Homo sapiens: one gene and its partners. The protein of the gene in region 2 purifies or fractionates together with the protein of the main gene of each other region. This does not show direct contact. Each region holds a gene or a part of one and is shown on either strand. Other genes may lie near its edges.

Region 1 (7,000 bases), on a different chromosome or scaffold from region 2:
TTATTCTTTTGAAATGAAGAAAAGTCCTAACCTTTTAGGGGTAGGGGGTGTTAATAATCTTATTTTTGATCCGCAAAGTACAAGCAATTTTTCCTTCTTAAGCCCCTCTTCTCCCAAAATGCTTTAAAAACACAAACACACCTCAAAAATCTCAAGAAATTCATTAGATCAGCATTCTCTTAAAATTGCACCGTTTTTTAACATACACAATACTGCTAAATACTGGTTTAACCTGAGACGAAACAAGAGTTCTGTTATTTACATGGTTTAAACCACAGCTTATTTGTATTCAGAAGTATCCTATTATACAACATATCATATAGTAATCAAGCAAAGCCTAGAAACAGTTCCTAACTTAGAGCTTCAATAAACAAATGTCTAATCCTTCAATTCCTATCTCAACATGTCTCTGGCTACTTGCATGCTTGGGATTAGTGTATTAGATGTCAGTGACTTGGAAGGCCTGCTTTTCTTCAGTTTTTCTAGACAGAACTTTCCAAGTTTCCAGTTAAAGCCCTTATCCCTGGAGCCTCATTGTACTGCAATGTTACCAGGACACAAAGGTTTCTTTTGTCTCACTGCTGCCCTGTTCATTCTTTCCTTTTAATTGAAAACCAAAGGGCATCTCACACTCAACAGCACTTCTCCCCAGATGCTACTTTGGGGGACACTATATGTCTTATTTGCTAGTCTACCAAAATAAAACATAATATCATTCAAGTGAGAAGTGTAATGAATGTATTTCCTTAGAGGAAAAAGCTTGGTGTCTGAAACAACACAATATGGGTATCTGCCTATCTCTACAAACGAACACATATTATTTTGGGGTCATCAGGGTCAGGGAAGGGGGAGTTCAGAATAATCAGCCTCAATCCTACAGTTGAGATTGAGGTATAACTTCCCATGAGCTTCCATCTCCATGTTGCACCTGAATGCCAGTAACAGAACTGGGACTGGAAGCCAGGTCTTTTCCTACCAGTTCTGATGTAAATCAATTCCCAGGGAATCAGGGAATCTGTCCATGTCTTCTCCCATACAACGCTTTTTTTTTTTTTTTTTTTTAAGATAAAGTCTTGCTCTGTCCCCAGCCTGGAGTACAGTGGCGTGACCTTGGCGCACTGCAATCTCCACCTTCCAGGTTCAAGCGATTCTCCTGCCTCAGCCTCCTGAGTAGTTGGGACTACAGGCACAAGCCACCATGCCCGGCTAATTTTTGTATTTTTAGCAGAGACAGGGTTTCACCATTTTGGCCAGGCTGGTCTCAAACTCCTGACCTCAAGCGATCCTCCTGCCTCGGCCTCCCAAAGTGCTGGAATCAAAGGCGTGAGCCACTGTGTCCAGGCCTCCCACGTAACTCTTAAAATGGAATGTGCTGCACATTCTCTGCAAGAAAATACCAACTAGTACATATACACAGTAATGTCGTCCATCTTAGACGTGAAGCCTGTTGGATTACACCAGTGATGTTACTCAACATATAAGCTTGAAATATCCAAATAAGCTTCCTCACATGAAGATAAATGGTCCTATTAATATCTCCTATGAATCATTTATTAATTTATTCACATATTTACTGAGAATCTACTATATGCCAGGCACTGGAGAAATCAGAAGTGACCAAGTCAGATAGTCTTTTTTCTTATGGAGCTCATTTACTTTACATTCTAGCAGGAAAGAGATAAACAAACCAGTAGGCAAATAAATAAAGACAACTTTCAGATAGTGACAAATCTATAAAAAATGATATTACTTGCTGGGTGCGGTGGCTTACGCCTGTAATCCCTGCACTTTGGGATGCTGGAGTGGGCGGATCACCTGAGGTAACGAGTTCGAGACCAGCCTGACCAATATGATGAAACCTCGTCTCTACTAAAAATACAAGAATTAGCTGGGCGTGGTGGCATGCACCTGTAACCCCAGCTACTTGGGAGGCTGAGACAGGAGAATCGCTTGAACCCGGGAGGCGGAGGTTGCAGTGAGACGAGATCGCGCCACTGCAGTCCAGCCTGGGCAACAAGAGAGAAACTCCATCTCAAAAAAAAAAATTGATATTACCGACAGCAATTTTAGGTGGGGTGCTTAGGGAAGGTTTCTAAAAGGGAGAGCTGAGCAGAGGGCTGAGCTGTGAAATGCATCTTGCAAAATCTGAGGGCAGAACATTTTGGGCTGAGGAAACAGCAAGTCTGAGGCCCTGAGATTGACTCAGAAAGCATGGTGAAAGAGAACATAAAGAAGGCCAGCAGGCTGCAGTACAGTCAACATGAGAAAGAGTGGCTTCAAGATGCAAGAAGGAGGCGGGTTGGCCTAAATAATGTAGAACCTTCTACGGCCTGATACAGAGTAAGACTTTAGTCTAAATGTAAGGGGAACCCACTAGACTGTTTCAAATAGAAAAGTGACATGATGCCATGTATGGTTTTTAAAGTTCCCTTTCTTGTCTAAGGAATAGATTATTGAGGATGAGAGCAGAAACAAACCAATTAGATGGTCACAGGAGTCGAGAAGAAAGTCTACTACTACTACAGTAGCAGTAGATACCAACAATTCAAGAGATTTGGAGTACGTTTTGGAAACAGTTCTTGGCCCAGGCACCTGGAGGCATAGGACTACCAGTTACTGGGACTGGGAGGACCAGAAAAAGAAGAGACTTTGGGGAAGGGCAGTGTGATGAGAGTGGGGGTGATGTGGCACAGTATTGAGAATTTTGATTCAGCCAAGTTTCATTTGGGATGTCTATGAAGACATTCAAGTGGATGACCAAAAGGCAACACTGATCTAGAGCAAAGTCATCTTTGCTGCTTTCTCAGCCCTTCTATCAGGACAGGGCATGCTATACCACTAGAGAACATCTTACTAAGAATATAGGAAAGTTGCTAAACATGTTCTTTTAAAACTCAGAGCCCAATTTCTCCCCTGGATGAAGCTGACTGCACTGCCCACCTGTGTCAGAATCTAATCCCAGTACTAGTAGGATTGATGCCTTGAGTTAACCCTAAGAAGGATGTGGACTTTTGACTATAACACTCTTGCACACAACACAAACTCCACAAACCACTACCAGCTTTTCAGAATTACAGGAATATCAGTGTTCAAAGGGACTTGAGAGATCACCAGGTAGAAAACCCTCTTTCTGTTGATGAGGAGACAACATCCATAGATGCTGATGAGAAAATGGACACCTTACAGGTTTTCCTCCAAGTACAAAGGATATTCTGTATTCCTTCAGTTCTTTCAGTTCTTCTTCTCTTCGTTGCTTTTCTATTAGTTCCTGCTGTCGAGAAACCTCATCAAGGAAGTTGGTCTCATCTTCATCTAAGCCTCTTACCATGTTTTCTGAGGAAATAATTAAACAAGGCACACTTAGCAGGCTAAAGGGAAAAATAAGATTTTTCCTTTCCCCTTTTTAAATAAGCAGCAGATTCTTCAGGGGATTAAAAAAAAAAGAACTGGTAAATACCATGGCGTTTGAATAGATAACAGGGCATAAAAAAAAACAAGGCATTTTTTCCCATTACTAAATATTACCATAGAATTAAAATGGGTGTTTTGAGCTCTAAACAAAAATATTCAATGTGGTCTAGAAGGCTGAAGGCTGTCTCTTTTCCACCAAATAAGCATCCGGAGACTCGAAAATCAAGACAATTCCACGGCTAGTTAGGAAAAGTGCTGCACAAGGCAAAAGTGCGTCAAAAGTACCCCACAGAGCCCCTTGAACTCTCTGTTTTCTGAAGCTTACTGAATTTGAACTGTTCCTCGTACTCCTGCTGCTTCCTGTCCTTCTGTTCCTGTAGCCTTTCATATAGAGATCGAGGGTCATAAACCTCCTCTGGACATTCTGAAAGGAAAAGGAGAGGGGAGAGAGGTGGACGGGGAGGAGATATACACTTCAGATTGTTTTCATATTATTTTGGAATCACAAAAGGTTTTAAAGACAAAGTCAAGTCTCTGCATGATCTGAGGGTGTGGATAACACAAAAATAGTACAAAGTCCAGTTTCCCTTTGGACCTCAGAGAGGGGCCACCAGTTCTCAAAGCCAACTATCAATGTCAATAGCGCCCATGGCCTGAGACAGTTAACTGATTGAGGGGCCAGCCCAAACCCTCCACAGCAGCAGTGTTCTCAGTTGTTCAGACCATGGATCCACCTGTATAGATGGAGGAGAGGAGCAGAATCTCTTGGAAGGAAGTGTGGTAGGCAGAAAAGAAGCAGGATGTGAGTATGCTGGCTCTGCTCCCAGCTGTGCAGGACCTTACATAGGTGACTTCGCCCCTGAGTCTCAGTTCCTCAACTCTAAAGTATGGACAATTGGCCAGGCATGGTGGCTCACACCTGTAATCCCAGCACTTTGGGAGGCCGAGGCAGGAGGATGGCTTGAGCTCAGGAGTTTGGAACCAGCCTGGCCAACAGATGAAACTCCATCTCTACCAAAAATACAAAAATTAGCCAGGCGTGGTGGCTGGTGCCTGTAATCCCAACTACTCGGAAGGCTAAGGCAGGAGAATCTCCTGAGCCTGGGAGGCAGAGGTTGCAGTGAGCCAAGATCGCGCCACTGCACTCCAGCCTGGGCAACAGAGTGAGACTCCGTCTCAAAAAAATAAATAAATAAAACCAAGTGAGGACAATTAATACCTACTCTGCAGGGTTGCTGTGTGGATTAAAGACCATTATACTGACTGTCACAGTATACCTTCTGGATCTTCAGGTTTTCGAACTTTCTCCCATTCTTCTTGCCTCCTTTTGCGCCGTTCATCTAGTTCTGCCTCAGACACAAACCTCTTTTTGATAATAAGGTTACCATCATCCCCTCCATCCATAATGAAACAACCAATCTACAAAACAAAAACAAAAACAAAAAAAATCATTTCAAGTGAGAACTGCAATTAAAATTCTAAAGAGAAACAAGGAGATTTAGCTCCATCTCACCCAGCAACAAACTAAAAATTATCTTCCAACTTTGAATTGAAAAAATTCTCGGCCGGGTGCGGTGGCTCATGCCTGTAATCCTGGCACTTTGGGAGGCCGAGGCGCATGGATCACGAGGTCAGGAGTTCAAGACCATCCTGACTGACATGGTGAAACCCCGTCTCTACTAAAAATACAAAAATTAGCCAGGCACGGTGGCACGCACCTGTAATCCCAGCTACTCAGGAGGCTGAGGCAGGAGAATCGCTTGAACCTGGGAGGCGGAGGTTGCAGTGAGCCAAGATCACACCGCTGCACCCCAGCTTGAGCGACAGGGCAAGATTCTGTCTCAAAAAAAAAAAAAACTCTCAAATAGTTTAATTTATAGGCCATTGATGAAAGCACATGAATACATTTTTCCTGACATATCAGAGAATTTTTATTAACATCGATGTTATCTACACAGTTGGCAAGAGGACCTGGGATAATTCTTATTACCTGGTGTTCCATAGTAAATCTCATATTGCAGCTATTTCTCTGTCCCTCTAATCTAGAAAAATTGGCCTCCTGAGCATCCCATCCTTTTCCCAGCTCTCATCCTCCTTTATTTCTGTAACATCTGACATTGTTTCTTCTTGAAATTCCTGTTTCTGAGACATTACACTATCTTGATTCACCTGCTCTTGCCTCCAAGTAGATTAAGATGGAGAATCTCAGCTATTGAAGACTTAGTGTTCAAGTCCAGTCTGTATAGCAGGGAAGGTGCACAAACCATGAATGGAGAAAGTGAGACTGGAAGAACAGATCTCCCAACTTCAGTTCCACGTACTTTCCTGAATACTAATCTGACTCTTCATTTATATCTCTTCTGACCTTCCTCCCTGTAAACCCCTTGTCTGTGCCATTTAAGATTTGAACTTCAATCCTTCTCTTTTCTCACTCCCACAATCACCTCAACCATTTTATGCATATTTTGACACAGAAGATTACCGAATCTGTTATTTCTACCTGAGCTTTTCTTCAAAGAGGAGAGAAGGAAATAAAGATAGCAGAGTGTATATTACTTATTACTCCTTTTTTTTTTTTTTTTGAGATGAAGTCTCGTTCTGTCACCCAAGCTGGAGTCCAGTGGTGCAATCTCAGCTCACTGCAACCTCCGCCTCCCAGGTTCAAGCGATTCTCCTGCCTCCGCCTCCTGACTAGCTGGGACTACAGGCGTGTGCCAACACGCCCAGCTAATTTTTGAATTTTTAGTAGAGATGGGGTTTCACTATGTTGGCCAGGCTTGTCTCGAACTCCTGAACTCGTGATCTGCCCGCCTAGGCCTCCCAAAGTGCTGGGATTACAGGGGTGAGCCACCGCACCTGGCCATATTACTCCTTTTAAACTAAACCTCTGTTTTTCTTTATTGGTTTCTTTCCTTTTGAGTAACTGTGGAATTAACCCCTACCCAGACATGTTATTCACAGCACTATGTGCTAACAAGGAGGCACATATTCAATCCAATGTCCATTCCAAGATAACCACTAACAACAAAAACAGTAAGTTTCCACGCTACCACAAAAATAAAGCAGCTAACAGTTAATGAGCTCTTACCATGTATTATATTCCTTTTATGGATATTATCTAATTTACATGATCATTGACCCTATGAGAAATATTATCTGTTTACAGATGAAGTTGAGGTCCAGAGGAGTTAGATTATTTGTCTAAGGTGATACAGGTGGTGAATGGTAGAGCTGAGAACCAAATCCAGGCCTGATATCAAAAATGCATACTCTTACCAACTTTACCATACTCCTCCCCAGAAAACACTAAATCTTAGTTGAAAACAAAGACATGTCGACTTCAGCTTTCTTCCTACTTCAAATTCCAGTGCTGAGAATATTCATGCAACATTTTTATTTAGTAAAGCTAGAAATGGAAGCTGAAAAAACAAACCCAAACGTTCAGAACAAGAGAATAGTCTCAGCCTGAATACTACTGTTGCTGAGGTTTAGTTTAATGTAACAATAAGAGCGAATTGTGAAAATTACTAGAAAGAAATGAAATCAACTGACAGACGCTGTTGCTCCCACCTAAAGCCCACAACCTGGA
Region 2 (7,100 bases):
CAAACTGTATGAATGTCTCCCAGCCAGGCTCTTTCTACTCTAGCCCAGCTTCCATACAAATATCTTTATAAATACAAAGCTGACCCTGTGGCCCCTCTGCGTATTCACCTGGTAAAGTCCAGACTACTTAGCCTCGCACATAAGGCCCTTTGCAATCTGGCACCAACACTGCTAATCTACCACTCCCATCTCTGCTCTAACCTCCTGGACTTGTTGCTTTTCCTAAAACATGCCATGCCTTTTCAAACCCCTGTGTATTTATATTTCCCTCTACCTGTGTAGGGATTTCCTTCCCAGCACATTATCCTCCACATTCAACTCAAAAGTCACTCTATGTATGAAGTCTCCCTTATCCACTCTTAGATTGTTTATTTTTTATTATTAAAATAGAGATGAGGTATCACTATGTTGCCCAGGTTGGTCTCAAAATCCTGGGCTCAGGCATTCCTCCCTCCTTGGCCTTCCACAGTGCTGGCTGCCATACCCAGCCTTTTCTCTGAGATTGTCACTTATTAAGGGACATTCTTCCCTGCTTTGGTTTTCCCTTTTAGAAGAAGAAGCTGGTATTCTCTATTAAGTTAGTTCTGTAACAAGTATTAAAGATGATCCTCAATCCTCTGACAAAGGTCAGATCAGGAGAAATAGGTGTTTGGTTTGAGTTGTAAACCTAATTCACTGGCCACTCAAGCACTCATATAATGATCATTAACGTAAATTGGTTCCACAGATAGTATAGTCCTCTGGTTCGGTGATTTTCAGTCAAGGGTAGCATTTGATGGGTAGTGGGTCCTGCTAAACCTACAATGTGCATGATAAAGACTTTTCCCCACCAATAATAATAATAATAATTCCATATAAGGGTATATTTTAGAAATGAGACATTTCCCCTTTTTGGCCTTATTCTAGAGTTCCTAATAATTCCCTCCAGTCTAAGGTCAAGCCAAATCTCAATTTTTCAGGAGGTATTTGTAGACTCTTTTAGCTATTTCTCTTTCAGCTTTCTACTCATATTTGGGCCACTTCACAGCTTGCTAGCACCTTCCCAAAGAGTGGGAGGAACTCAAATCAGTGGTGAAAGCTAAATCCTTTCAGATTTTCTTCATGTTCTGGAATTTTTGGTAATTTTTAACTAAATTTTGAGACTAGATGTGAATTCCAACCATGTCTAATTACTTCATTTCTTTAGGGAAGCAGAGATTAAAAACTGCAGTATACATGTAATGTACATATCACCCATATAGATATACATATTGATTTATTCTTTTTTAAAAAAACAGGAAGTGAAGCTAAGCCATGAAGCCTAAAATAATAAACCCAGGGCCCAAAGTGAGACAAAGACAGAAATAGCTTAATTCTTTGAACTTATACCCTTGTATTTTGTCCAGCCAACTTAGCTGTTTAATCTCTACGTTTTAGACCGAGTTTCATTGACTTTCCCTTCTTTTGAAAAATTTAAGTCCCAGGGATATAGGGTTCTTTGAAACTCCAGGGTTATCTGACAGGTGACTGTATTCCACATACAGAAAGTAGTTTTCATATAAAAAGCACAATGCTTTTCCTATCAACTTATTCTGTTATTTATGTCATTTTAAAATTCATGGAAATAATTTAGAGGCATAAACAAAATGAATGTGGATAAAATACGGAGAAAGGCTTCCATTCTCTGAAAAATACTGATTTGACCCAAAATGCAATGAAATGAGAAACACTATGATTTTTTGTTTTTGTTTTAAGACAGGATCTCACTCCCTTGGCCCAGGCTGGAGTGCAGTGGCACAATCTTGGCTCACTGCAGCCTCAAACTCCTGGACTCAAGCAATCCTTCCGCCTCAGCCTCCTGTGTACTAGGACTACAGGCACAAGCCACTACGCCCAGCAATTTTTTTTTTTTTTTTTTTTTTTTTTTTTGAGATGGAGTCTCGCTCTGTCGCCCAGCCTGGAGCGCAGTGGCGCGATCTCGACTCACTGCAACCTCCGCCTCCCAGATTCAAGTGATTCTCCTGCCTCAACCTCCCAAGTAGCTGGGACTACAGACGTGTGCCACAACACCCAGCTAATTTTTTATATTTTTAGTAGAGACGGGGATTCATCGTGTTAGCCAGGATGGTCTCCATCTCCTGACCTCATGATCTGCCCACCTCAGCCTCCCAAAGTGCTGGGAATACAGGCGTGACCCACTGCGCCCGGCCTTTGTTTTTTTTGTTTTTTGTTTTTTTAAGAGATGAAGTCTTACTATGTTGCCCAGGCTGGTCTTTAACTCCTGGGCTCAAACCCTCTTCAGCCTCCCAAAGTGCTGGGATTACAGGCGTGAGCCACTGTGCCTGTCCCAACCACTGTGGTTTGAAGCAGATTTGGGTACTGATTAAAGGCTTCCATAAAATTTTAAATGTATAGAAACTAGAAAATTCTGCATTTCTTGATATGGTTCTCTTTTTTTTTTTTTTTGAGACAGTCTCACACTGTCACCCAGGCTGGCGTGCAATGGCGCGATCTCCACTAGCTGCAACCTCTGCTTCCCAGGTTCAAGCAATATTCCTGCCTCAGCCTCCCAAGTAGCTGGGATTACAGGCGCCCGCCACCACGCCTGGCTAATTTTTTGTATTTTTAATAGAGATGGGGTTTCACTATGTTGGCCAGGCTGGTCTTGAACTCCTGACCTCGTGATACACCCGCCTCGGCCTCCCAAAGTGTTGGGATTACAGGCATGAGCCACTGAGCCTGGCAGTTCTCTTTCAATAATGGAATTTAAGTATATAAATGTACAGGTTTAACTAAATCAAACAATTAAAAGAGACGTTATCCAATTATTATTTTAAAGAATAATAAGCATTCTGGTAACATAAATTATCATCTCAGGTTCCCTGTATCAGAGTTGATACAGGAGAATGAGCTAGAAGAGGACAGTTTGGAGAAACAAAAATTTGTTTTTCCTACCAATAGCTCTGGAAACCGACAGACTTCCATTCACCCTCCAGGCACCAAACCAGACTACGCAACCTCCAAGGGCCTCAATTCTCTGCTTTTCATCCTAAACAGCAATGCAATAAAAAGAAGCAAATAACTGGATTCAGGATTTATTCATTTACTTTAACAGTAAACAACAGATATAATACTCATCAGCTCATGAAAAGGTTCTCTTTGTTTCTCCATTGGAGGGTGGGCACAGTTGCTGATGTGATAGCAATAATTGTAATAATTAAGTGAATCCTGGCCGGGCGCGGTGGCTCACGCCTATAATCCCAGTACTTTGGGAGGCCGAAGCAGGCAGATCACCTGAAGTCAGGAGTTCAAGACCAGCCTGGCCAACATGGTGAAACCCCGTCTCTACTAAAAATACAAAAATTAGCTGGGCGTGGTGGCACATGCCTGTAATCCCAGCTACTCGGGAGGCTGAGGCAGGAGAATCGCTTGAACCCAGGAGGCGGAGGTTGCAGTGAGCCAAGATCACACCATTGCACTCCAGCCTGGGCAACAGAGTGAAACTCCATCTCAAAAAAAAAAAAAGTAAGTGAATCCTAATCAATAACTAGAAAATCTAAACTAATAACTAGAGCATGGGCTCTATTAAAACAGACCATACTTACCTCTCTGTCTGGTTTGTGTGGCTTCATTAGTTCAACAGCTTGGCCCTTTCTCACAAGCATAACCTGGGAATCACCCACCCAGGCCACATGTAGCATGTTGCCTCTGATGAAAGTCACCACTCCTGTGGTCCCACATCTTAAGCTCTGAAAACAGTTTAAATAAAACTAGACTCAGTGAAAAGAAATAGATACTACATTCTTATTGAGAAGCAATTTATAATTAAGCTTTTCAGCTGGGAGCTATACTATTAATAATGGAATTTCACACATATATAATAATTCATTGTCTCAATGCATTTGTATATGCATGTATGTATTTATGTGTATATACACACATAAGTCCACCTGATCTGTGATATGCAGGGCGAGGATGATTATTAATTCCACTTTAAATATAGATAAGAAAACTATGGCAGGTTATGTGACTTGCCCAAGGGCAGGTAACTATTAGTATATAAGACAGAATTGAAATTCTTTTTCCTCCCAGTCAAGCACTAAATCCTCTATACCAATCCTCAGAGTAAAAATTTCTATATTCTGCTCTCCATTTCATTACTGACATCGTATTTGTTCAGTGGGAGAGTCCTAGCTGTATAAAATGATATATAAAACATCTGATTGGTACACAACAGATGCTCTAATCTCTGGAAATTAAGCTAAGGGGCCAAGAGACAGCTTACGTTCCCTGGAGTACTAAGATGCTTATACCTTTAAAAAAATATCCTTCCTACAGTATTTTTAGGGGTCTTTGCTTTTGGAACATTGCATAAAGAACTAACAGCCTGGAATTTCACTGCAGTAGCTACGACTGTACTTAAAGCTCTTGGTCCTACTATACGAAAATGACATCCCCATTTGACATGAGTCACCACCAAATGAGCATGACTTTCTGTTACTAAGGACCTGGCCTAAATTAGAACCAATGCGTCAGGGGTGGTAAAAGGTCTCTTGTATCCAATGAGAAAAACAACTTCTCGTTTTCCCTATATAGGGAAAGTTTGTTATAAATCCTCACCCACCAATAAAATGTCTTCCCACACAGAATGTTCAAAAACTCAGCCCCCTAGAACACATGATAAACACACTTCAGTGCATATGCCCTGGAGAGAACAGGAGGCAGGGCTGCTTCATAACAGGAATAGCTGTTTTCTTCCCAGCAGTTAGCAGCACATGGAAGCATAAGAAGGAGAAAAGGGGCGCTGAGACAAACCTAAATTATTCAGAACTATTGGCAGAACTGAGAGACACCAGGGTCACTGACAAAACAAATGAGGTAAACATGGTCAGAAAACAACAACAACAACAACAACACATAATTTTGAGAAGACAGAGGAAAAAAAGAATAGAATAGAGGATGAAGAAGACAGAGTGAATCTCTTTGTTTCACATTGATGATTACGGGTCACCTCTCAGGGGCCGGCCCTTGTCCTCGACTCAGATGATAAAAGCCCACAGCTTCAAGAGAGGCAGAGCCAAGCAGAATGCAGGTCCTCAAGAGACTGGAGCTCTGAGGTCAAGAGTGGCTTTATTCTCCAGACCCACCTCTTTGTGTGGACTCTACTGGTTACTGTTGGATTTGCATATTAATCCAAACTTAGGGGAGGGGAGAGATGAAGAATAATTCTCTTTCTTAATACCAAATAGGTCTGAGTTATTGTTTCATTAATTCTAAGCCCCATTATTGCTTGTAGCATAACTATGCTATCAAAAAATGGATTAAATGATTACCCTGATCTCTCCAAGCCCATTTTAAAAAGAGTTAATGTTTAAGTCACAGGGCAGGAGTCTTATTTTTTGTCTGTATCTACTTCTGTAATTATTTTTAAAAATTAAAAATTCTTTTATTCGTCCCCAGTTAAAAATCCAATATAGAACACTGTAGTTAATTATGTACCAATACCCAGAACGATAATTAGATTAATTTTTTTACTTTTAGACCTTAATATAGAGCCCTTGCCATTTATTCAAAGTAAAAAAAACTTAGGTCTGATTAACCTTCGCAATGTAGGACATGAGCTCTTCTTTTCTCCCTATTAAGAGAAAAATCAGCTCAAGGATCATTTAAGGATTCACCCTCTCCAAGCGAATTTTCCCTCAAGAGATACACAGCAAAACACTGCCTACCCATTTAGAACCAAATGTATGGAAGTAATCCCAGTTTCTGTTTCTTTTTTAGACCATTGTTTTATTCACCATATCCAGATCTTGTCAGCAAGAGTCTGCTTAGAGAGATGGTCCTGGTGTGAACCTGACAGGCAATGGTGAATAAAAGAAAGATGAAACTCACCTGCCAAATCCAGCAGTTATTACAGAAATGAATCCAGAAAATTACAGCTTGAGATTTTCTATACAGTACCTCATTGTACCCCCTGAAACTCTTCCTGAGGAGGGAATTGGAACTACAACAGAATCCAATACTGTGAGTCAAGAATACAGTTTGGATAATGTCTGCCCAGAAAGAGAAAATCTAAATAGCCCTTTAACCACACAGACCAAATTGAGCTCAGCTAGTACATTTCTAGCTGGAACTTATGAGAAAGGGGCATACCTCCCTGGCTGCTTTCTGCACAAACCGCTCATCAGTGACCCGGAAGGCCCTGCACAGGGCCTCAGCAGGATCATGGGGGAACATCTCCTGGCGGACTAAGTTAACGTGGAGGTGAATGGAGGCATAAATAGCAGCATCTACTCCCCCATGGCCATCAAACACTGCAAAGTAAGCTTGTTCTTCCTGGTCCTGTCAACAGAAACACAGAACAGTTATGGGAGTTGGGTATAGCATGATTCAAATGAACCAATCTCCTGGCATCATTGTTGCCCATCCTTTCTCCTCCACTGCATTTGTCATTCAGAATAATGAGACTAAATGTTTTCCTTCTCTAACATGCCTGATCAACTGCTGAAATACCTGCAATATTAGGGTATCTGTGTTTACACACCAGAACACTGGAACATGTCATGCCCAATTAGCTCAAGCTGAAGTGCCCTCTCTCTGTGAAAGTTGTTGTCTTGTACCATGGAAACCACCCACGTACATTTGCTTCAAAATTGCTGTTACAAGTTGGGGGAGGGGGGATAGGGAGGGTATGAGAAGGAATTGAACAAAAGCAGCTCCAGATTGAGTGATTTTTTTCAAAATGAAAGTACTTTAATAGCAAAATTAGAACCTGAGAACAATAGAAAATAACTGGTCTTCCAACACAAGGCCAATTAAATCAAGTTTAAAATATATAAAGATATGAAAGCATAAACATACTTCTAAACTATAATACCTTCTTCATAAATCATTCCCAGTCACACTGCATTCTCACCACAAATAGCACAGCATCTCTAAACTAGTTTACCAAACTTGAACCACATCAGATGCTCAAATGCCCTGTGCGGCTGACCACTTTGCCTCACCCCATGATCTAAGATTTTAGTTTCACATTTCCTTGCAAAGTAAACTGCCAGAGGAGGATCTTCCAACCCTGTGCTTTGTCTTGACAAAAGCCTAATCATAAGATTCCACATCAA
Region 3 (7,000 bases), on a different chromosome or scaffold from region 2:
AGCCAACAATAGAACTGGGTCCACTACTGAAGCCCGTGCTGGTGCTGGGTTCGCCAGTAAAGCCAGTGCTGGTGTTGGAACCACTGCCAAAGCCAATGATGGTACTCAGTCCTCTGTCGAAGCTGGCATTAGGCCTACTGCCAAAGCCATCGCTGGTGCTGAGGCCACCACTAAAGCCAGCACTGGTGCCAAGTGTGCTGCCGAAACTAGCATTGGTGCCCAGTCCACCACCAAAGCCATCACTAGTGACCAGTCCACCACCAAAGCCAGCACTGGTGCCCAGTCCGCCACTGAAGCCAGCACTGGTGCCCAGTCCACCACCAAAACCAGTGCTGGTGCCTGGTCCTCCACCGAAGCCAGCGCTGGTACCTAGCCCACCATCAAAGCCAGAACTTGTGCTTAGGCCACCACTGAAGCCAGCACTGGTGCCTAGGCCACCACCAAAGCCAGCACTGGTGTTCAGTCCACCACCAAATCCAGCATTGGTGCTTAACCCATTGCCAAAGCTGAAACCGGTACTGGTGCTGGGTCCATCACAAAAACTAGGGCTGGTAGCACCACTAAAGCAGGCACTGGTGCTAGGAGGGCCACCAAAGCATAGGTTAGTATTAGATGCACTGCCAAAGCAGAGGCTGGTGCTGGGAGCTCCACCAAAACAGAGGCTGGTGCCATGAGCACCACCAAAGCTGACACTGGTGCTGGGAGCAGCACCAAAGCCAATGCTGTTGCTGGGAGTACCACCGAAGTCAGCAGCGGTACTAAGTGCCCCACCGAAGCCAGCACTGGTGCTAAATGCACCGCCAAAGCCAGGGTTGGTGATTGGTGCACCACTGAAGCAAGCACTGGTGCTGACAGCACCACTGAAGCTGGCACTGGTGCTGACGGCACAGCCAAAGCTGGCATTGGTGTTGAGTGCACCACCAAAGCCAGCACTGGTGCTGGGAGAGCCACCAAAACAGACGCTGGTGCTTAGTGTACCACCAAAGTCAGTGTTGGTGCTGACAGCACCACCATAACCAGCATTGGTGTTGAGTGCACTGCCAAAGCTGACACTGGTGCCAGGAGAGCCACCAAAGCAGACACTGGTGCTTAGTGTACCGCCAAAGTCAGCACTGGTGCTCATAGCACCACCAAAACCAGTACTGGTGTTGAGCACACTGCCAAAGCTGGCACTGGTGTTGAGAGCACCACCAAAGCCAGCACCAGTGCTGGGAGAGCCATCAAAGCAGATGCTGGTACTTAGTGTACCACCAAAATTGGCACTGGTGCTGGAAGAGCCACCAAAGGAGACACTGGTGCTAAGTGTGCCTCCAAAGCCAGTGCTGGTGCAGGGAGAGCCACCGAAGCAGATACTGGTACTGAGTGTACCACCAAAGCTACCACTGGAGCTGGGAGAGCCACCAAAACAGACACTGGTGCTGAGTATGCCTCCAAAGCCAGTGCTGGTGCTAAGCGCACTACTGAAGACTGTGCTCGTTGTGGGTGCACTGCCAAAGCTGGTGCTAGTGCTGAGTACACCACTAAAGCCAGCCGTGGTGCTGAGTGTGCCTCCAAAGCCAGAGCTGGCTCCACCACTGAAAGTGGCACTGGTGCTGAGTGGGCCACTAAAACTAGAGCTGACTCCACCACTAAAGCTGGCACTGGTACAAGGCATGCCACCAAAGCTAATGCTGGCTTCACTGCTGAAACTAGTGCTGGTGCTGTGTGCACAACCAAAGCTAATGCTGGCTGCGCTGCTGAAGCTGGAGCTAGTGCTCAGTGTACCACCAAAGCTAATGCTGGCTGTATTGCTGAAGCTGGCACTGGTGCTGGGTGCAACACCAAAGGTAATGCCAGGTCCACCACTGAAGCCACCACTGGAGCTGGGTGCACCATTGAAGCTAATACTAGCACCATCGCTGAAGCCAGCCCTGGTACTAGCTCCTCTGCTGAAGTTGACGTTGGTGCTGGCATCTGCATTTTCTTGGGCTCTGGCCTCAATTTCAAATGAAAATCTGCTCCAGGCCTGAGCATCATCGCCTAACTCTTCCCTTGTTAGGCAGTCGATATCCATGTCATCCCAATTCCAGGGCCCAGCCACAGCTTCCTCTCCAATCCCCATTTGGGCTCTTGCCTCAGCCCTGGCTTCAGCCTCAGCCACAGCCACAGCTGCAGCTTGGACTTCCATCTCCACTGCCTCGCGGTACTGCACAGCCCAGTCCTTGGGGTCTTTCTTCTGCACCTGAAATGGGGATGATAATCATAATAAGAAAACAACCCTAGTAATCATGTATTAACCTACGGGCTTTGTATTAAACTAGTAGCAATACTTTTTTAAACTTCTCAGTTATTGGGGCTCTATCATGGGTCAGTTCTGAACTCCAGTTTCAGCTCTGCTGACTTACGTGCTATATGACCTTGGACAAGTTACTTAACCTCACTTAGCCTAAGTGTCTTTATAATTACAGGAAATGATAGAGCGTAAATATGTTATGAACTGAAGGGTTGTGCCCGCCCCCAAATTCGTATGTTGAATCCCTAACACCCAGTGTGATTGTACTTGGAGATAGGGCCTTTATGGAGATAATTAAGGTTAAATGAGGCCATAAGGGTGGGGTCCTGATCAACAGGATTAGTGTCCTTATAAGAAGAGACACCAGAAAGCTTGCTCTCTTCTCTCTCACACACAAAGCCATGTGAGGACACAGCAAGAAGGCAGCCATCTGCAAGCCAGGAAGAGAGCCTTCAACAGGAACTGACCCTCGTGGACCCTGACCTAGGATTCTCGCCCTCAAGAACTATGAGAAAATAAATTTGTTTTTTAATCCACCCAGTCTATGGTATTTTGTTATGGCAGCCCATGCTGATTAATACAAAGTATGAAGAATGAATGAGATGATGTAAACTATATATCTAGCAGCACCCTGGGACATAAAGGAGGCTCCACATGTTTATATATGAGCTGCAGGCTGCTCTGTACCTGCCCATCCCTGTGCATTGCCTGCCCCAGCCAAGGGTATCCCATTGCCTTAATATGCCAAGCTCGGGCAGCTCTCCTCTTACCCTGCATGCAAACTTGAGGACTTTCATCTTGCTAGTCTCGTGGTAGGAGCGCAAGCCCCAGAAGAACTCATATTCAGGTGGTCTGCTGTTAGGGACCCTCTTGTACTCCAGGTACCTTGGAAAAAGGAAATGAAACTTGTTTCTAACCAAGCAACCCTGCTGTCTAAGCACTAGACACCAGGTGGCAACCTCCTCCAAACAAATACAAACAGCCCCTGGAGAGGGATTTCTAAGACCCTCCAGCCCCAGACTCACTACCAAACACAGTTTATGGTCTTGGCCTCCAATACTGAGCCATTTCCCACTGGCCCTGTGCAAAGCAGTCCCTTGGGCTTCTCCAGGGGAGACATGTATAGGGCATGATGTCACAGGAAGGCCAAAGTATCATGCCACCTGTGAGGAGTAAGCCCAGATTCCTGTTGGGTGTGTTGTAAACAGAGGAGCCATTCTTAAGGCCCTCTGCTCTGAGCGCACCCCACTGCAAGGGCCTTGTGTTGAGTCTGGCCCAGTCCTGGAAAGGTCTGCCCATGGGAATTTTAGACAGTATCAGTTCTAGGACACAGGATGCCCATCCCTCTAAAGCTAGTATAAGAAAGGCACTGACTAAGCACTTTCTGAACCAGATCAGTATACCCAGAACACTTCAGGGCCAGACAAAGCCCCAAACACCACTTACTTCTGCTTCACAAACTCGTCTGTGATGAGCTTCCTCACTTCCCCAAAGAGTGAATGCCTCACCCTGACAATGGGAAAAATAACCCATGAACACAGATCAGAACTGCCCAGATGAGGGCAGAGGCATTTCCCAACATGGAAGAGACCTCTCTAGCACATGGGGCAGTCTCAATGAAGTGAAGAAAGTAATGAGCACATGGCCACTAGAAGCAAGCAGTTAAGACCAGATGCCTCTTTGTCAGGGATCCCTGAAGGTCTATCTAACATCTCAGCTTAGAACAGACAGAGGACATTAAGGAGAGAGACAGCAGAGAGTTCAGGACCATTTGCCCGTCATCCACCCAGGTCAGAACCCTGGGCCCTCTACCCAGTCCAGCACCCCACCCGCTCCACCAGACCACCAGACTGATGCAATCCTAGGACCATCCTCTCTTGCCAAAGGACAACACGGACAGCAAGCGCTGAGAGAGCCCAGTCATACCCAGGGCGCAGCCCCAACTTGCGCAGCACCTCCCAGATGACAGCTGTGAGGGGAGGCAAGAGGAGACAGGGACAGAAATTGAACACATGGAATCCAGACCATGGCCGCCCATTCAGCTGCATGCCCAGCCACTCACCCTCACTGGCCTTGTTGCCATTCATAAAAATGACACTCAGAATCACCATGAGGAGACCCAGCTTGGGTGTGTCCTTGGTCCTAAGGGAATAACAGGACAGAAAGAAGGTTTATGTTTCAACAGGACAGAAAGAAGGTTTATGTTTCAGCAGCCATCCGCAAAAGATACACCAGCCAGCTCACCAGGCTAACCTCTCCCAGATTCCTCAGATACAGAATTCTGCCCAGTCTCTGCTTCCAGCTCTATGCCACCCTGGGCAAGGCACTTAGACCTTGCAAGCCTTGGTCTATTATTCAGTAAAATGGGAAAATCATATTCTCCCTTCCTCAGGTTGCCAAGAAGATGGAAGAATGGCTGTCAACCTGGTACAACACAAGCACTCAGTCAATGTGAGTCCCTTCTTTCTCTCCCAGAACCTTCAGCCCCACTGACACTCTTGCGCTTCATGCATACTGATCCAGCCACACCAGGAAGCCCTCCTTGAGAACCACTCTGTCAAAGCCAGGCCAGGCACTCCATCGGAAGAGGCAAGCAATGACAGGCCTGCTTTCCTGGGAAGCTTCTACAGAGACAGCAAACCTGACAGCAGGAATGTCCCACCCTAGGCTCCTATACCCTTCAGTCAATCATAATCAGGTGCCACTACTGTGAGCAGGGCTCCAACTATGTGCAGGTGCTGAGACAGGGCTTTTGAGACCCTGTTTTTCCTGACTCTCTAAGAGGATGGGGGAAGTAGGACAAAGAAGGGGTAGCAGCACAGATAAAAGCAGAAGCTTCCTTCCCACTCCAGCCCTTTCCCAGCTTACGTTCCCAGTATGCCTGCAGAGGATTCCTGAGTGCTGATGAGAATATACAAGCTACTTTGCTTATCAATTTCTTTCAGATTGACTCGAAACATCTGCCAAGTAAAAGAATAGCCTGTGAGATCACAAAATTCAGCTTAGGTATCAGTGAACTTTCCGGGCATCCTAAAACTCCCAGTGTACTTAGGGGGTCTGCATGTGTAAGAAGTCAGTGAGATAATGCACATAAAGCACATAGCCAAGTGCCTGGCACCCAGTAAACACACAGCAAATGTACTATTGTCATCAACATCATCTTTGTGATGAGCAGGAATCTAGGGAGACAGAAAATGGGGATACAAGGGAGAGGTGAGATCTGAAATACATGCAGAATATGTCCAACTATGAATAGAAGCTGAGACTAATTTGAGTGGCTTCTGTCCTAGCCATGTTTTCATCACTGACATGCTGTGTGACCCATGGCAAATCTACACCTCTCCCTAGGCCACTGTCTGCCCATTCACACAGTAATGGGGCTGGATTAGCATGTTTCTGTGATTCTCTCCAAAAGGGACATGTATGTCTTTGCTCGATTCAAAGCTTCCCCATTGCGCCCATCCGCCAGCACTGCCCCTTCACCTTCTCCAGAGTGTAGCTTGCTCGTTCAATGATTTCTGGGAAATATTCATCATATTCTTGGATGACATCCCTCAGCATGTCTGTAGAAAAGGAGAGGTGAGAGTAGCTGAGCTTAGCAGGGGCCACAGAGCTGCAGCCCTTTTGCCAGTCCTGTTGGGTCAGTGCAATCAGAGACCTGAAGTGAGTTAATGGGAGATGCCAGCCATGGCAGAGTGCAAGGAGGGCAGGTGTGGAGATATGACAGAACAAAGAGGCCATAAAGTGTTACTCCCAGACTATGGGAGGAGAGGGGAGTGGAGAGGAGAGCTCAAGGAGGAGGGTTGGTAGGACACTACCTGAGCGTTTGATGGGGATCTTTGTCTGGTCCTTAACCAACAGGTATTTCACCAACTTATTAGCCTGGGAGGAGAGGAATAGATGGAGAGATCTTAACATGCTTGCAGAAAACTTGGAAGGAGGCAGAGAAGAGGGCAAGTGAAGAAGAGAAGAGACTGGACAGCATTGGATTCTTACCCTTTCTTGTAAAATGGCCACATCTCGCGGTGGTGCAGGCCTCCGGCCCCATGGGATCCGCCTGTAATTACTGCCACTTCTCTCATCCCCATTCAGATGCTTGGACTTCATCATCAGAAAGAAGGAAGGTCCAGAGTCACCAGGTGAAAGAGATGGCTCTGTCTCCTCACCTTGCCTGCTCCAGACAGAAAGTCCCTCTAACCCCCTCCCTCAGCCTTGCTGTAGTGGAGCCTGATCCTGACCTTGCCATTGGCCACCCTGAGTCCTGAGCTTATCTTTCACTGTCTTCCAGGAAGGAGTTTCGTTCCTCTGCCAGGCCAGGAACAACTCAAGATAAGAGCCTAAGGGTCTTTCTCTTCCTCTGGCTACCACCAATTATGCTGGCTGGTACCTCTTGGACAAGTCACTTCATTTCTCTGAGACTCAGTTTTCTTAAGTGTAAAACTGGGACCTATGATCCCTTGTTGGTAAGAGTTACTTTCAAGACATTCAGACATACCCTGTGTAACTGTACCCAACACAAAGCCTGGCACGTGGTAACTACTATTTAAATACAAGTAGTATTACATACAGGTTGTAGCTGAGTGTATGGATGTCTTATTTCCTCACCAATCTGTGAACTGCTAGGGAGCAGAAACTATATCACCTTCTTCTCAGCATCTTCCACAGCCTATCTGAACACAGGGACTAGCTCAAAGTAAAACTTTTATAGAAGAAATGAACAAACTAGAA

Evidence for each region. The genes of interacting proteins can lie anywhere in the genome.
Region 1: the proteins of PPM1E (region 2) and PSME3IP1 purify together in Homo sapiens (affinity purification with mass spectrometry; 2 studies listed by BioGRID and IntAct, with this or other methods). This does not show direct contact.
Region 3: the proteins of PPM1E (region 2) and TRO purify together in Homo sapiens (affinity purification with mass spectrometry; 2 studies listed by BioGRID and IntAct, with this or other methods). This does not show direct contact.

The regions. Positions count from the first base shown.
Region 1 is NC_000016.10:57,169,040-57,176,039, forward strand, and holds part of PSME3IP1 (PSME3-interacting protein), read right to left. Parts: exon of another isoform or gene 6,503-7,000; coding exon of another isoform or gene 6,500-6,502; intron 5,982-6,499; exon of another isoform or gene 5,679-5,981; coding exon of another isoform or gene 5,676-5,678; intron 5,650-5,675; exon of another isoform or gene 5,581-5,649; intron 5,567-5,580; exon of another isoform or gene 5,426-5,566; coding exon of another isoform or gene 5,402-5,425; intron 5,252-5,401; exon of another isoform or gene 5,130-5,251; intron 4,947-5,129; exon of another isoform or gene 4,925-4,946; intron 4,831-4,924; coding exon of another isoform or gene 4,816-4,830; coding exon 4,689-4,815; intron 3,836-4,688; coding exon 3,737-3,835; intron 3,334-3,736; coding exon 3,212-3,333; intron 1-3,211. UniProt on the Homo sapiens protein: Promotes the association of the proteasome activator complex subunit PSME3 with the 20S proteasome and regulates its activity.
Region 2 is NC_000017.11:58,968,760-58,975,859, reverse strand, and holds part of PPM1E (protein phosphatase 1E), read right to left. Parts: exon of another isoform or gene 6,322-7,100; coding exon 6,133-6,321; exon of another isoform or gene 5,831-6,132; coding exon of another isoform or gene 5,761-5,830; intron 3,729-5,760; coding exon 3,585-3,728; intron 3,029-3,584; coding exon 2,935-3,028; intron 1-2,934. UniProt on the Homo sapiens protein: Protein phosphatase that inactivates multifunctional CaM kinases such as CAMK4 and CAMK2. Dephosphorylates and inactivates PAK. May play a role in the inhibition of actin fiber stress breakdown and in morphological changes driven by TNK2/CDC42.
Region 3 is NC_000023.11:54,923,824-54,930,823, reverse strand, and holds part of TRO (trophinin), read right to left. Parts: intron 6,374-7,000; coding exon 6,269-6,373; intron 6,155-6,268; coding exon 6,091-6,154; intron 5,836-6,090; coding exon 5,756-5,835; intron 5,233-5,755; coding exon 5,141-5,232; intron 4,415-5,140; coding exon 4,335-4,414; intron 4,242-4,334; coding exon 4,199-4,241; intron 3,782-4,198; coding exon 3,719-3,781; intron 3,520-3,718; exon of another isoform or gene 3,389-3,519; intron 3,158-3,388; coding exon 3,043-3,157; intron 2,222-3,042; coding exon 1-2,221. UniProt on the Homo sapiens protein: Could be involved with bystin and tastin in a cell adhesion molecule complex that mediates an initial attachment of the blastocyst to uterine epithelial cells at the time of the embryo implantation. Directly responsible for homophilic cell adhesion.